2 separate regions of the Homo sapiens genome follow, and region 2 is linked to region 1. Evidence: fine-mapped expression QTL. A gene starts in region 1. The other region holds a variant in brackets. All regions are shown on one strand. Distances are between the middles of the regions.

Region 1 (4,221 bases):
AGGTTTTCAACAAAAGTAAAGTTTGCTGAAAGTTAACAGTATAACATGTATTATCCTAACTTCTAATCTTGTGGAAATCAGACCCTATCAGTGCCCCACAAAGCTCCTGTCAGCACAGGGCCATACAACTAATACCCCTACTTATAGGGTTAGGAATGGCCACTGCTACAGGAACCAGAATAGCAGGTTTATCTACTTCATTATCCTGCTACCACACACACTTGAAGGATTTCTCAGACAGTTTACAAGAAGTAACAAAATCTATCCTTACTCTACAATCCCAAATAGACTCTTTGGCAGCAGTGACTCTCCAAAACCGCTGAGGCCTAGACCTCCTCACTGCTGAGAAAGGAGGACTTTCACCTTCTTAGGGGAAGAATGTTGCTTTTACACTAACCAGTCAGGGATAGTACGAGACTCCGCCCGGTGTTTATGGGAAGAGGCTTCTGAAATCAGACAAAGCCTTTCAAACCCTTAGACCAACCTTCAGAGTTAGGCGACATGGCTTCTCCCCTTTCTAGGTCCTGTGACAGCCATCTTGCTATTACTCGCCTTTGGGCCTTGTATTTTTAACCTCTTTGTCAAATTTGTTTCCTCCAGGATCAATGCCATCAAGCTACAGATGGTCTTACAAATGGAACCCCAAACGAGCTCAACTAACAACTTCTACCGAGGACCCCTGGACCAACCCACTGACCCTTTGGCTGGCCTAGAGAGTTTCCCTCTGGAGGATACTACCACTGCAGGGCCCCTTCGCCCCCATCCAGCAGGAAGTAGCTAGAGTGGTCATCGCCCAATTTCCAACAGCAGCTGGGGTGTCCTGTTTAGAGGGGAGATTGAGAGGTGAAGCCAGCTGGACTTCTGGGTCAGGTGGGGACTTGGAGAACTTTTCTGTCTTACAAGAGGATTGTAAAATGTGCCAATTAGCACTCTGTAGCTAGGATTGTAAAACGCACCAATCAGCACTCTGTAGCTAGCTAGAGGTTTGTAAAATGAACCAATCAGCACTCTGTAAAATGGACCAAACAGCAGGACATGGGCGGTGACCCCAGGAAATAAAAGCTGGCCACCCCAGCCAGCAGCAGCAACGTGCTCGGGTCCCCTTCCATGCTGTGGAAGCTTTGTTCTTTCGCTCTTCACAATACATCTTGCTGCTGCTCACTCGCTCACTGACTCACTCTTTGTGTCCGTGCCACCTTTAAGAGCTGTAACACTCACTGCAAAAATTCCCAGCTTCATTCTGGAAGTCAGCGAGACCAAGAACCCACCAGAAGGAACCAACTCCAGACACAGTAGGATTTGATGAATCCTAAAATGTCTTCCAACTCCTGAGATCTATGATCTTCCACATCAAACAGGCACTTCACAATTTCCCTGTTCTTTGCCAAAGAAAGCTGTCCATTTGCTCCAGTCTCTCTCTCATTCTGTCTCTCTCTCTCTTCCCCCAGCCTTCCTCCCTCTCTTGTGCTATTCTCTGGTCCAGGGTTCTGTTCTTTTTTTTTTTTTTTTTTTTGAGACGGAGTCTTTCTCTGTCACCCAGGCTGGAGTGCAGTGGCGCGATCTCGGCTCACTGCAAGCTCCACCTCCCGGGTTCACGCCATTCTCCTGCCTCAATCTCCCGAGTAGCTGGGATTACAGTCGCCTGCCACCACGCTTGGCTAATTTTTTGTATTTTTAGTAGAGACTGGGTTTCACCGTGTTAGCCAGGATGGTCTCGATCTCCTGACCTTGTGATCTGCCCGCCTCGGCCTCCCAAAGTGCTGGAATTACAGGCTTGAGCCACCGCGCCCGACCTCCAGGGTGCTATTCTACTAGGAAATCTTAATCTGCAACATCTCTTGGCTTTACCCCTTTCATTCACTGTTTCCTGTTTTCCGTGTACCCTCTTGATTTCTTTCCAGGCCTTCTCTTTCTCAGACTCACACACTCCTTCCATTCCACTCCCCACCTTGCCTTCTTCGTGTACATCTCCTTTCTCCCTCTCTTTCTTTGCTCCCCCTACTTCATTTTCCGTCCCCGCATCCCCCGATGGTCTCCCCCTCCTTCCCGCTCTCTGTCTTACCCTAGTTTGGAAATGCAGCAGACCTCTAAACCTGCCAGCATTGGATGCAAGAGGCTGTCATTCTACGGTAGGAGGAGCTTCTATTGGTCGGGCTGGAGGCGGGTACCGAGCTGAGTATAAAAGGTGGGGCCGGAGGCGGCGAGCTGAGCGGCTCTGACAGGACGGGTCGCAGGGGGTCGCCTGGCCGGAGCTGGGCTCCGAGAATCCCGGGTGCCAGCACCAGAGCAGCGGCTCTCCGCACTAACTCTCCTCTCCTGGTCAGCTGTAACCCCTGCCGCAGAGCCCGGCAACTTTCAGCTGTCGCCCGCGGAGCCCCGAGGGCCACTCGCCTCACCTGTGCGTGCAGCGCCTCGCGCGCCCTGTCCGGCTGCGGAGATGAGCGAGGTGAGCGGTGCGGCCCCCGGCGCTGTCGGCAGGGCTGCGGCGGGGAGGGTGCTGCGGCTCGGGATCCCAGGGAGGCGAGGGAGAGCGAGGCAGACCGGAGCCGCGAAGAACCCTCCAGGGGCGCCCCACTGCCCTCCTAGGAAAGCTCCCACCTCGGGGCGCTGGGAAACGATTGGAAGACGGGGTGCTTTCAGTCTCCCTACTGTGGACGGCGCTTTTGGGGGTAATTGGAATCGGCTGTAGAGTCCGGAAGCGGGGATGCTGAGCTCTCAGGTGGTAGGTCATCCCCTCTGGATACTGCCCCCTGCATCTGTCTTACTGCCCGAGATTATTCTGGCTCCCCTTACCCCCCTCACTTCGCTTCTGTCCTCTCTCTCCTAGGGATGTAAGGCACTCACATTCCTTCTGTAGCATCTAACAAGAACTCCATCCCTGGCCCCCGGGGAGGGCCACTGTGCCCCTTTTAGAAAGGTGGCATCCTGCCCTCCACTCATTCAGTCAGGAACGTTGGAGGGACGTGTTCCGGTATTTAGAAGCCCCTGCCAGTTGCTGGGGAGATTTCCCCTTCAAGAATAGACCTCCCTCTGCAGTGCTTGTTACAAACTAGGTCTTCCGGCAGGCTCTGTGGTGTTCACCGTGGCCAGACCCAGGCCATTAACTGATTTACTGTTTTCAAAGAACACTGTTCATGGGGTGGGGGAGTGGGGGGTCAAAGCAGAGACTTTGGAAAGACGTCTCCTATTGTCTATTTGTAGGCACAGTCTCATCTCCAGAAACAAGGATCAGCCTTTCCAAGTGAAGTCAGTCTGGTTAGTGGCATCACAAGCTTGCCCTCTGCAACCTCTTTCCTAGTACCCACATCGTTGTGTTAAATCCAACTCCTCTGCTATATGTCAGATATGTATGTAGGCCAGCTACTTACCTGTGATGTAGCCTTAGGCAAAGTACAAAACCTTTGTTTCATTTTTTGTCTGTAAAATGGGGATAATACTGGTTGTTGTAATAATTAAATGAGATAATATATGCCAAATACTTGAAACAGGACCTGGCACTCAATCTATATTAGCTATTATCTTTCTGTTTCTTTTTTCTTCCTCTCCCATTAGAGTATTACAGAAATTTAACAGAAGAATTCCCAAAGACATTAGATTACTGAAGGAATAGGACCCTGGAGCCTGGGTTCCAGTTTAGATACTAAAAATGAAGATCTCTATGACTCCTACCAAAAGTTGTCACCCAGGGAGCTAATTAGTGCCAACTGCTGTGTTGTCTTGGTTGCCGTGTTCACTAATTTTATCCTGGAAAATTCGGCTAGTCTGGGGGCTGCAGATGAACCAAAGTGGTTTCCAGTCCCTCAGCTGGTTGTGACTCTGATGATGGCAATCTTTCAGAAAGAAAAGAAAAAAACGCATCAACCTCCTCTTTCACCTCTAATGTGGGAAGAGAGGTTTTCTTTGCCCCTTTTCACTGAGGTCTAGGGTTCATACTACTCCTCCCACCCCGAGCATTTCTAAATCTGAAAGTTGTAATCCAAGCCATCCCCTGGGAGTTTGTGATCTGAAGGCTATGCCAACGTGAGGATTTGCAGTTAGCCTGTGTTTTCTGGGGTAAGTGCACAGCCCCTTTGTAGGACACACTACAGGGGCTGGCATTTAGAGTGGTATTTGGTGGAATGAGAAGCCTGTTTTGTAGCAAAGGAAACAATTCGGTGTTTGAGGAGAAAGCCAAGTCCGCTCCCTCCTGACTCAGCAGCTGAATTTGGTTAGCCTTCATCA
Region 2 (4,517 bases), 46 kb after region 1:
CCTGACCTCAAGTGATCCACCCACCTCAGCTCCCAAAGTGCTGGGATTACAGGCGTGAGCCACTGCGCTTGGCCCTGTTTTTCTTTTTTAACACGAGTGTCTCCATCTTGATTCTGACAACTTTCACATATTGTTACTTAATAAATCTTATAATTTTTTTCATACAGGTTATGTACCTTTCTTGTTAATTTCTGTTTCTGTTCTTTTTACTGTCATCAGTGGGCTTCCCTATTATTTTCATTTCTAGCTAGATTTCTAGTTATAGACTGAAATTAATTTATTTTATAATCACACTACCAGATTGACTTCTTAGTTCAATACATGTCTAGTTGCATCTTATGGATTTCCTAGAAACACAATCATATTATCTGCAAATAAAGATAAGTTTCTCATCTATGTATACAGATTGTTCCTTGTTTTTGGTTAATTACACTAGCTAAATTCTTCAAATATAATACTGAATATTTTTAGCGATAATGTAAGTACTGTCTTTTGTTTTAATGACAATGGCTGCAATATTTCATATTTAATATGCTTTTTAAATGATTTTTGAAAAATAGTGTCCATTATGGTTATTTCTATTACTATTTTACTTAGAATGTTTTGTAGGAATAGCTACTAAAAAACAATTGCTTTTTTTTTTTTACATCTCCTCTTGATAGAATTACGTTTTTTCCCTGATGATATAACACATCCTGTTAGTAAATTTCCTGATACTGAACTATTCTTTCATTCCCAGAGTAAATTCTTCATGGTCATAATTTATTATTTTATTAACTCATTGTGGAATTCTCTTTTGCAAATATTTTATTTAGACTCTTTGTCTGCGTATTCATAAATTGGGTTATAATCTTTTTCTTTTTATGGTTAACACTGAAAAAGGCTTTAAATTATTCTCAAAGTGCTCACATGCCTGGGCAAAATTATTGCTATTATTAACAACGCACTGAGGATTGTGAACGATTTATTTCAAAGTAATAATTAGATGGGATTCAAAGTTTCCCATATAACAATGTCATTTCCCTTTATCTGAATCATTATTCTAGACTTTATTTAATGCTTTACTGCAGAGGAAAGAAAGGGGGGATGTGGCTTACTTTGTTGGGGATTGTGGAAAATGGGCACAGTCCTGGAAAAACCCACATTAAGTGTGCAATGCTTGTGAAAATGCCTAATGCAAGAGATTGCAAAATGTTGTCCCAGGGTACCAGGATTCTTGATGGAATAAGAAATATTAAAATAATTGGATAAACTGAGCTAGCAAAATGCAGGTGGCTGATAAATTTTAGAACAAAAGTGTAATTAAATGAGAAGCTTTGAGCTATACTCTATCTCATAAGTAGCATAATATTTCATTTGACTCTCTCTCTCTCTCTTTCTTTTTTATTTTTATGAGACATAGTCTCGCTGTGTTGCCCAGGCTAGAGTGCAGCGGCATGATCTCGGCTCACTGCAACCTCCGCCTCCGCGGTTCAAGCAATTCTCGTGCCCCAGCTGCCCAAGTAGCCAGGGTTAGAAGGCGTTCACCACCATGCTCGGCTAATTTTTGTATTTTTAGTGGAGACAGTGTTTAGCCATGTTGGTCAGGCTGGCCTCAACCTCCTAGCCTGAAGTGATCTGCCCACCTCGGCCTCCCAAAGTGCTGGCATTACAGGCATGAGCCACCACATCCAACCTCATTTGACTCTCCTGACAGTCTGGGAAGTTTAAGCAGGGAACCCAGCTGCAACTATCTAATGAATAATGGACAGTTTAGCATCTTAACTAATAAGGAATCTTGGGCTTAAGATATTCCCAACTTTATTACTGGGTTGTGACTAAGTTTCCTCTCCCACTTCCCCCCAACAAAAGGCTATATATACTCTATTAGCTTTTATATTTAAATGAAGGCAGATTGATTTTTTTTAAAAGACATTGAAGACACCCCTCAAACAAATGGAAGCACTCTGGGTTTTGGTAAAGCTGGTGTTAATCATATCTTTAGCTTCTTAACAAGGGGAAGAAATTACTTGTGGGCACTTTGGGTTTTTTTGTGCCATCAGTAATCCCCAGGGGAAAATGATACGTATATGTTTTTCCACAATCAGTTCAGGATACCAGGATATTAATGGTATACCTAAATCAACATACCAACAAACTAGCTAATGAGGTATTAATAGTATACCTATTAATAGGTAAACAGAAGTAAAATCATGTACCAACAAAACAAAGCAGTGATTGTTTAGAGAGGTGAATGGGATTTGTGCTAATTTGTAAAGTGTACTACCTTAGGCAAGCACTAGAAACAAATATTGAACACCTTAATATTTAGTTGTATATCAACTTACAGTTTACAAAGTTTTCCATACACAGGATCTCATTTGATTATTATAAAATCCCTAGGAATTAAGCAGGGCAGATATCATTATCTCAGTTGTTTACAAGTACATAAACAAGCTTACCAAAGTCAGGTAACTGTCCTGGGGATCACACAGCTAGAGAGTGGCTGGGATGTTTTAAAATTCAGATCTTGGTGAAGACAGATTCTGCGTTTTAACTCATGTAAAAGCAGAGACTGGCAGAGTTTACAACGTAGTATAATCTCACTGATTATTTGCTGAAGGTATGAATGTGTCTTGTGAGGCTATTTCAGAGTTCTTTCTAGTATACTATATAAGCCCACCCCAAAAAAACAAACTAAACAACTGAAGCCAA[G/C]TATGGAAGGTTGGGGATGGGATAAGGGGCAGGAATTATTCCCAGGAGGACTAGGAAATTCTAGACAAGGCAGCAGCTTCTGGAAATGTCAGTGTTTATTAAACATTTAAGGACATTTGGAGGTTTGAGAAGAAATATACAGAATGTAGAAAAATCCTAAGAATCCCCTGTGGCTGCAGTGCAGCCTCTTCCTCCCCCCCGCCCCCCCATTTCCCATTTGTTTTTCCTGCTTTTTGTTTGGTTGTTTAAAAACCATTTCTTAAGGCTCATTTGCCCCCTCCCCCACTCCCTGACCTATGAGGATCCATTCTCTCTCTCTGTCTCTCTCCTCAAGACCTGGAGTCCCAGAACAGTGCTCCAAAGTGGTCAGGGGGAACCAATGCTATACTGAAGTGTGAGGATCAGGGGCCCCTCTACTTGGGCTGGCTCTTCATTAAGGACTTAAGGGGGGCGTGAATTGCAAAAGCCACATGACGTCATTGGTCCTCAGTCATGGGTGTAAGGGCAGAGGATGAGCACAGGTAAACAAACAAAGAATGGATTAAAAAATAAAAAATAATAACCTAAATAAACCCTGAAGGAGAGTCTGATCTGGGTGCTCTGGGTATTAGCTGGGGGGACAGAGTATGGAGCTGGGCCACCTGGTAGAGGGGAGGGAGGGACGGGAGAGGAAACAGCCAGGGGGACAGGCTGGGGGATGCAGGAGATGGGAATGCCAGGTGGCCTGGACTTGAGGCAGAGGGTATCAAAGTCCCTTTCTTCTCAGTGCTCAGGTGGACAGGCACCAAACACACAGCCCCCGGGGCAGGTGAGGGGTAGGATTAGCTCCTGGGCTCCCAGAAAGCCAGGGGTGAAGGTGGGGGAGAATACAATTGCCTGGGGAATGAATTCTGGAATGAAACTTACATCTCAAAGGGAGGTGAGGGCAGGGCAGGGCGGGGGAGCAAAGAGGGAAAGCACCTAGACGGGGGTAAGAGGAGCCTAGGTCCCCCTGCTCTGGCAGGGCCTGGGGTGGGGGGGTGGCGATCACTTGTCCGAGTTCAGGCCCATCATGTTCTTGAGGGCGTTTTTGAGGCTGGTTCTGCTGGGGGACTTGACAGCAGGCCGGAGCTCCGGGCTCTGCTCATCCTTTCGTAGCTCCATCTCGATGACCATCACCTTTGGGCCTTTGGCGGACTCCACCCCTAACCCCCGATCCCCCGCCCGGCCCGCTAACCGCTATTTCTTATCCTTGCGAGACTCCCCCAGCCCCTTGGCCTTCTTCTCACTGACAGCTTTGGTGCTTCTGCTGTGGTCCAGCATTGCATACAGCACTGGCGTCTGGGGGAGGGGCGCACACATCAGTCACCGAGCGACTGGGGCTTGACTGTTCCCATCCCACCCCTCACTGCTGCCCGGCGGCTCCCAGGGTTCTCCTTCCCATCTTGTCTAGGCCCCAAGTCCCGCTAACCTGCCGCCCGCGCTTCGACGCGTCCTTTCCTGGCTTGTGCAATTTCCCCTTCTCCATAGCACTGCAAGAAGAGAGACTGCTGTACGTTTGGCCTCGCCGGAACCCCTTGCACCGCGGACACAGCTTCCTCTTCCCCTTGGCCCTCCCACCCACTGGAGTAGTCTCCGCCCAGATGGGGGATAGTGGGGAGAGGGGGAGGGGAGCTAGGCTCCGCCCCTTACCTGAGCCTCCTCTGCAGGGCCGCCTGCCTGCGTAGCCAGCAGTACCGAACCACGTAGAAAAGCAGCAGCAGCAACAGCACCACCCCGAGGACACCCCCGATCACAGCTCCCAGAACGACCCCGTACCTAGTTGGCACTAGGAGGGGTGGGAA

Evidence for each region.
Region 2: its variant is fine-mapped to the expression of PCP4L1 in fibroblasts (GTEx, PIP 0.93).

The regions. Positions count from the first base shown.
Region 1 is chr1:161,256,538-161,260,758 of GRCh38, forward strand. It overlaps PCP4L1 (Purkinje cell protein 4 like 1), which reads left to right and starts at 2,208. Exons shown (of 3, transcript NM_001102566.2): 1 at 2,208-2,446. The coding sequence starts at 2,438. RefSeq lists an enhancer at 2,576-3,076.
Region 2 is chr1:161,301,964-161,306,480 of GRCh38, forward strand. It overlaps MPZ (myelin protein zero), which reads right to left. Exons shown (of 6, transcript NM_000530.8): 4 at 4,366-4,501; 5 at 4,145-4,205; 6 at 2,772-4,014. The coding sequence ends at 3,913. Among named protein-coding and RNA genes, the nearest start is that of MPZ, 5.7 kb to the right of the region's middle. The variant G/C (reference allele first, on the strand shown) is at 2,695.